Linked DNA regions of Homo sapiens. The protein of the gene in region 2 interacts with the protein of the main gene of each other region in a biochemical or structural test. Each region holds a gene or a part of one and is shown on either strand. Other genes may lie near its edges. The genes, in order: CYLD and RBM25.

What was found.
Region 1: the proteins of RBM25 (region 2) and CYLD interact in a test that uses a peptide from one of them, tested with the Homo sapiens proteins (one large-scale study listed by IntAct).

What each region holds. Positions count from the first base shown.
Region 1 is NC_000016.10:50,748,346-50,752,171, forward strand, and holds part of CYLD (ubiquitin carboxyl-terminal hydrolase CYLD), read left to right. Parts: intron 1-1,203; exon of another isoform or gene 1,204-1,230; 5' UTR 1,231-1,353; coding exon 1,354-1,857; intron 1,858-3,258; coding exon 3,259-3,561; intron 3,562-3,826. UniProt on the Homo sapiens protein: Deubiquitinase that specifically cleaves 'Lys-63'- and linear 'Met-1'-linked polyubiquitin chains and is involved in NF-kappa-B activation and TNF-alpha-induced necroptosis.
Region 2 is NC_000014.9:73,061,254-73,065,079, reverse strand, and holds part of RBM25 (RNA-binding protein 25), read right to left. Parts: intron 109-3,826; exon of another isoform or gene 1-108. UniProt on the Homo sapiens protein: RNA-binding protein that acts as a regulator of alternative pre-mRNA splicing. Involved in apoptotic cell death through the regulation of the apoptotic factor BCL2L1 isoform expression.

The DNA.
Region 1 (3,826 bases), on a different chromosome or scaffold from region 2:
AGAATGAGCCTACTTCATTGGAAAGATTATTATTCTTGTAAAAATTTTAAATGAGGACCAGGTGCAGTTGCTCATGCCTGTAATCCTAGAACCTTGGAAGGCCAAGGTGGGAGGATCATTTGAGTCCAGGAGTTTGAAACTGCAGTGAGCTATGATCGCACCAATGTACCCAAGCCTGGGTGACAGAGCGAGACCCTGTCTTAAAAATAAATAAATAAAATAAAAATAAATGAAAATTTGAAAAAGAAATAATAGAAAGAAATTATAATGCAGTTATATCATGATATTCCCTTGCTATGTAGTACAAGTTTTGATGCTACAAAATTGATTTTTAAAATATTTTTAATATAGTCATATTATAATATCTGATATTTGCGATTTGAGAAATCAGATAACTATGATTAATGTGATGAACATTGCCCATCTTCAGAAAAAATATATGAAATGAAGTTGAGTCAGAGGTAAAATGTTCCATTATCACAATATGGCCATATCATAGCTATCATTTATAGGCATGAGCCACACAGCTCAGCCCGAAACGCTACTTTTAAAAGTTTATTAGTGTCAGAATATGGGACAGGCCTGGTGGCTTACGACTGTAATCCCAGTGCGTTGGGAGGCCAAGACAGGAGGATTGTTTGAGCCCAGGAGTTCAAGACCAGCTTAGGCAACATAGTGAGACCCTGTCTCTACAAAAAATAGAAAGCTTAGCTGTGTGTGGTGATATGCGTCTATAATACCAGTTACTCGGGAGGCTGAGGTAGGAGGATCACTTGAGCCTGGAAGGTCTTGGCCACAGTGAACTGTGATTGTGCCACTGCAGTCCAGCATGGGCAACAAGAGTGAGACCCTGTCTCAAAACAAATAAATAAAAATAAATTAAAAAAAGTTAGAATATGTATATAAGGGTAATCTTTAAAAGTTTTTACTAGAATCTGATTTTATAAATTTCAGTGTCTTGGAAGCAAACATTGTGTTGTCTTTGAAAGTACTTTACAATTGGATTTCATTAATTAAATATGCACAGTTACAGTAGATAAAAGTAATACAGTATGTATGTCTTTTAGCCCTTTTAGATATTTTTTGAAAATATTTCATTTGTGTGTATGTGTTTACTGGTCAAATGAAAATTTTAAAAGTCTTCAGTCTTAATTTTCAGTCATGTAGAATGAAGTCTAAAGTTTATTTTTGCTTTTTCACTAGGCATTTTGATTTCCTTTCTTTTTACAGCATGGACACCACGTTGCTGAAAACATGCTTTGGGACTGCCACTGAATTTATCTTTTGCGGTTTTATGACAAAGTTATTAGTAGTTTCCCTTTTTTGAATTAGTATTTTGAAGTTAATATCACAATGAGTTCAGGCTTATGGAGCCAAGAAAAAGTCACTTCACCCTACTGGGAAGAGCGGATTTTTTACTTGCTTCTTCAAGAATGCAGCGTTACAGACAAACAAACACAAAAGCTCCTTAAAGTACCGAAGGGAAGTATAGGACAGTATATTCAAGATCGTTCTGTGGGGCATTCAAGGATTCCTTCTGCAAAAGGCAAGAAAAATCAGATTGGATTAAAAATTCTAGAGCAACCTCATGCAGTTCTCTTTGTTGATGAAAAGGATGTTGTAGAGATAAATGAAAAGTTCACAGAGTTACTTTTGGCAATTACCAATTGTGAGGAGAGGTTCAGCCTGTTTAAAAACAGAAACAGACTAAGTAAAGGCCTCCAAATAGACGTGGGCTGTCCTGTGAAAGTACAGCTGAGATCTGGGGAAGAAAAATTTCCTGGAGTTGTACGCTTCAGAGGACCCCTGTTAGCAGAGAGGACAGTCTCCGGAATATTCTTTGGAGTTGAATTGCTGGTAAGTTTGATAAACCATTTTAGTAGTGTGTTTGTTTGTGTTCATGTGTGTCTGTGTATTTGTATGCACATACATATTTTTCTCCTTAAATACGAAATAAATTTTCCCAAGAGTCTTCTGTAATTTTTAATATTCATCATCCTTGCTGATGAATCCATGTTGTGGTTGAATCCATAATCCAAAACTTGCTTATAGTTGTCACTGATAATATGTGTGAAAATCACCTTGGCGTTTATTTCTGTTGGAAAGAGACCCAAGAACTCTGTGATATGTTTCCAAGCTTAATATTCATTCTTGAGAACTTAAATGTCAATTATATTTTGACATTCTTGCAAATAGAATTGTATGCCTTCTTTGCTTCTTGATTTAATTTCTTTTGTTTACTTTTTAATGATGAATTGCGAAGATGTAAAGATGATGTCGAAACTTAAAAAACTATGTACTATGGTAGGAACATACAAAGAGATTCACCTGGCTATTGCAGACATATATATTTTAGAAATTTTAACATTGCCTGTATTAAACATGAACGCTACCAGTTGTAAATAGTTACATAAAAAATTGTTAATTACCTTGCGTTATCATCTATAGGTTTCTTAGTTCTTCTTAATGTATGTTATTAAATAACAATTTAGATATAAGATTTTTGAAAAAAAAGTTGCAGAAATTTAAACTTGCTTATAATTGTCCCCGATAATATATGTGAAAATCCTTAGAATTTATTTCTACCGGAAGGAGACCCAAGAATGCTGTGATATGTTTCCAAACTTAATATTCATTCACAAGAACTGAAATGCCAATTACATTTTGACACTCTTGCCAATAGAATTGCATGTCTTCTTTGCTTCTTGATTTAATTTTTTTTAAAAGCAGTGATTGTAAACAATTAGGAATTTGAATCCCAGTTAAGCCATTTACTAGCTGGGTTGCCAGGTTACTTAACAAAGCTACTTAACTTCTCTCATTCTGCATCCTTACCTGTACAATGGTGTTAATAGTACATGACTTGTAGTGTTTTTGTGGTACATTGATGCAGGATTTAAGCACAGTGACTGACAATAAGTGCTTAATGAATGGAGCTAACATTACTGCTATTTTAAAGTAACATTTTCTTTTTATAACCAAATTAATGTTAGAATCACAACGTGGAATTCAGCCTAGCTTTCTCATGATAGAGTTATGAATTGAAATTATCAGATAATATTATTTCAGCATCAGATACAACTTCTTATTTTTTAAAACACTCTAAATCCAACAGAAACTGCTAATAATTGTATTTCTTATTATATGTATCATTTAGAAATTTTCCAGAGTGATTTTCCTGAAATCCCTAGAGTGAACCCCTTTTCCTATGGATCGTCTTTCTATATCTATTTCTTTCCCTTCTCTCTTAAAAACTAGGAAGAAGGTCGTGGTCAAGGTTTCACTGACGGGGTGTACCAAGGGAAACAGCTTTTTCAGTGTGATGAAGATTGTGGCGTGTTTGTTGCATTGGACAAGCTAGAACTCATAGAAGATGATGACACTGCATTGGAAAGTGATTACGCAGGTCCTGGGGACACAATGCAGGTCGAACTTCCTCCTTTGGAAATAAACTCCAGAGTTTCTTTGAAGGTTGGAGAAACAATAGAATCTGGAACAGTTATATTCTGTGATGTTTTGCCAGGAAAAGAAAGCTTAGGATATTTTGTTGGTGTGGACATGGTAAGAAAATTTTGGATTAAATATCTTTGTGATATATATATTAGTTTATATATATATGTATATATATATATAAACATATATATACACACATATATATACACACATATATATGTATAGTTTATATATATATGTATTAGTTTTAGGACCAATTTACTTGCAAATTGAACACTTTGAATATTTAACATGATCTAATTTGGAGTACTTTAAAGAACATGTTCTAATTTATCTTTGGTAAAGGAGCATTGAAATAGAACAGGGGTCTAGA
Region 2 (3,826 bases):
ACTCTGGAAGGTGAGGCAGGAGAATTGCTTGAACCTGGGAGGCAGATGTTGCAGTGAGCCGAGGTCGCGCCACTGCACTCCAACCTGAACGACAGAGTAAGACTCCGTCTAAAAAAAAAAAAAAAGTAAAACTCTATATTCTTGGTATTTAAGTTATATTTTATGGTTTTTAAATGTGTAATTCATTCTGCAGAGTTAACCAGATATATTTAATTTTCGTTTATGCCAATATACCCATTCCATTCACTTCAAATTTTTCCATAACATATTCCCCTTTATTTGGAGCTGCCAAAACTTGCTTGTTGATAGGCTGGACTTCAAAGGTGAAGGCAAAAATACCAGTTAACAGCTAATTTTTATGGATATTCCTTTAAGATAACTGGCCTCTCCTGGGCGCGGTGGCTCACATCTGTAATCCCAGCACTTTGGGAGGCTGAGGCGGGCGGATCACAAGGTCAGGAGTTCGAGGCCAGACTGGCCAACATGGTGAAAGCCCGTCTCTATTAAAAATACAAAAATTAGCCAGGAATGGTGGTAGGCGCCCGTAGTCCCAGCTACTCGGGAGACTGAGGCAGGAGAATTGCTTAAACCTGGGAGGCAGAGGTTGCAGTGAGCTGGGACCGCGCCACTGCACTCCAACCTGGGTGACAGAGCGAGACTCCATTTCAAAACAAAAATAAAAAAGATTGGTCTCTCATGGAAAATCAGAAAACATTTCTCATCTTTGATAAATACTAATGTCCACTTTAAGCAGCCTAAAAGATTACCAACTACTTATTTCAACACAGGTTTATGTGTTTTGCCATGTGAAACTGATTGAGAATTAACTTTCATAATCATAAGCAAAGCTTATCTGTTACCTATAGATGATAAACAAAATAAATTATAATACATTGAAAGATGGTATGTACTTTGTAGAAAAATAAATTAGGGAAGAGAGCTATGGAGTAGTTTATTTTAAATACAGCGATTAGGCCTCACCAAGAAGGTGAAGATTAGAACAAAGATTTAAAAGAGGCAGAGGCAGGAAGCCCTATTCATATCTGGGGGAAAGAGACTTCCAAGCAAAGGAAAAGACAAATACAAAGAGGCTGAAGCAGGAATGGTGTATTTGAGGGAGGAATAGCAAGGCCAACAGTATGACTGGAGCAGAATAAATGAAGAAAATCAGAAATAAATACTGAGTATTATGAGTAGAGTGTAGGGCTATGTAACACAATGTAAATAAACATTTTAGTTTTAACTCTGAATGAGGTGAAAATCATTTGAAGAGTTTCTGACTTGTCACATTTTAACAGTATCACTGGCCACTGTGTTAAGCCTGGAAGGGAACAGGATACAAGCAAGAGACTGGTACAATAATCCATATAAGAGATGGTAGCCTGGAGAGATGGTGGCCTGGAACAGGTGGTAGTGGTGAAAGTGCTATCAAGTTGTTGGATCCTGGATATATTTTGAAGGCAGCCAATAGGATTTGCTGAGGGATTGTATAATATGTGGGATTTAAAAGAGAGAAATGCAGAGTTATCTTATGGCACTGAAATCATTTCCATAGCATTTTTTAAAATATTGAAAGTACCTCACATTTTAGAAGGTTCAAAGCACCTTTTCCTGCTAAGTATGAAACTCCGGGCCGGGCGCGGTGGCTCAAGCCTGTAATCCCAGCACTTTGGGAGGCCGAGGTGGGTGGATCACGAAGTCAGGAGATCGAGACCATCCTGGCTAACACAGTGAAATCTCGTCTCTACTAAAAATACAAAAATTTAGCCGGGCATAGTGGCAGGCGCCTGTAGTCCCAGCTACTCGGGAGGCTGAGGCAGGAGAATGGCGTGAACCCGGGAGGCGGAGCTTGCAGTGAGCAGAGATTGTGCCACTGCACTCCAGCCTGGGCGACAGAGCCAGACTCCATCTCAAAAAAAAGAAACTCTATAGCCCACGATAATAAAAACAGGAACCTGGGCCAGGTGCAGTGGCTCATACCTGTAATCCCGGCGTTTTGGGAGGCCAAGGCATGCAGATCACTTGAGCTCAGGAGTTCAAGACCAGCCTGGGCGACATGGTGAAACCCCATCTCTACCAAAAATACAAAAAATTAGCCAGGTGTGGTAGCATGCACCTGTGGTCCCAGATACTCAGGAGGCTGAGATGGGAGAATCGCTTGAGCCCGGGAGGTGGAGGTTGCAATGAGCCGAGCTCACACCACTGCACTCAAGCCTGGGCGACAGAGTGAGGCCCCCCAAAAATTAAATAAAATAACAGAAACCTATGATAGAAGGGTTCCCTACCTCTAGTGTAGCGGTGGTCACACAAGTATATGCATTTGTCTAAACTCATTGAAATTAAAACAGATGCATTTTATTGTATGCAAATTTTATCTCAAGAAATCTGGTCCAAAAAGAAACCCTGAAGACATATCTCTAGTACTCAACATATGCATGCACTCAGCTTTTCTTTTTTCACTTTTTTCTCTTTGAATCTTTCAAACTATTTTTTTCTGCACTCTTAAGAATACTGCAAGTATGCAAAATACAGCAAAACACTGCTAATAAGCATTCCTCTATTGTAGACTTATCCAGATAGAAACAAAATTATTTCTCCCAGGATAGATTATTTTAGACTAGCTCCATCAGTACACTACGTGCCAAATTTCTGAAATGATAATGAACTGAGATTCCTCTGAGCAAATATTCACATACAACTCACTCATTCATTCAATATCTACTTCCAATTATGTGTCAGGTCTGCAGGAATTATTCCTAGAAAAAAAAAAGTGTTTTATGCCCAAAGAAGAATGGGAAATGCTTAACAGAAAAACTACTTTTACAGCAAAGCTTTTCAGAAGTATGAAAATACTCAATTGTTTGGAAATCTCCAAAAAAGAGTTGATCTTTTTCTGACATTGCCACTTTTGTTGTTTTACCATTTTCAATGATTAAAGAGCAACACTCCTGTGCCTGCCTATAGTCACAGCTACGCAGGAGGATCACTTGAGCCCTGGAGTTCTGGGCTGCAGCACGCTACTGATCAGGTGTTCATGCTAAGTCCATTCAGCATTAATATGGTGACCTCCTGGGATGAGAGAGAACCACCAGGTTGCCAACAGAGAAGGGCAAAACTCCCAAACTGATCAATAGTGGGATTACGCCTGTGAATAGCCACTGCACTCCAGCCTGAGCAACACAGGAAGAATTCATCTTTTTAAAAACAAAAACAAGGCTGGGCACAGTGGCTCATACCTGTAATCCCAGCACTTTGGGAGGACGAGGCAGGTGGATCCTTTGAGCCTGAGTTCCAGACCCGCCTGGGCAACATGGTGAAACCCCATCTCTACCAAAAATACAAAAAAATAGCCAGGCATGGTGGCGTGCACCTGTGGTCCCAGCTACTTGGGAGGCTGGGGTGGGAGGATTGCTTAAGCCTGAAATGCGGAAGTTGCAGTGAGCCAAGATCGCAGCACTGCCCTCCACCTGGGTGAAAGAGACCCCATCTCAAAAACCAAATAAAACAAAAAAGCAGCGCTATCTACTACTATCTATACAGAAAAATGAGGGCTTGCCTGAAACTGGGGTGGAACAGGGTGACTTGCAAACAGACAGAAGGAATCCTTTTGGGGTAATGGATGCATAACTTTGTATATTTACCAAAAATCATTGAATTGTGCACTTACAGGTGAATTTTCTATGTCAATATAGTTCATATAGCTGCCATTTTAAAAAAGGCATATTGGCCAAGTGCGGTGGCTCACGCAATCCCAACACTTTGGGAGGCCAAGGCGGGTGGATCACCTGAGGTCAGAAGTTCCAAGACCAGCCTGGACAACATGGTC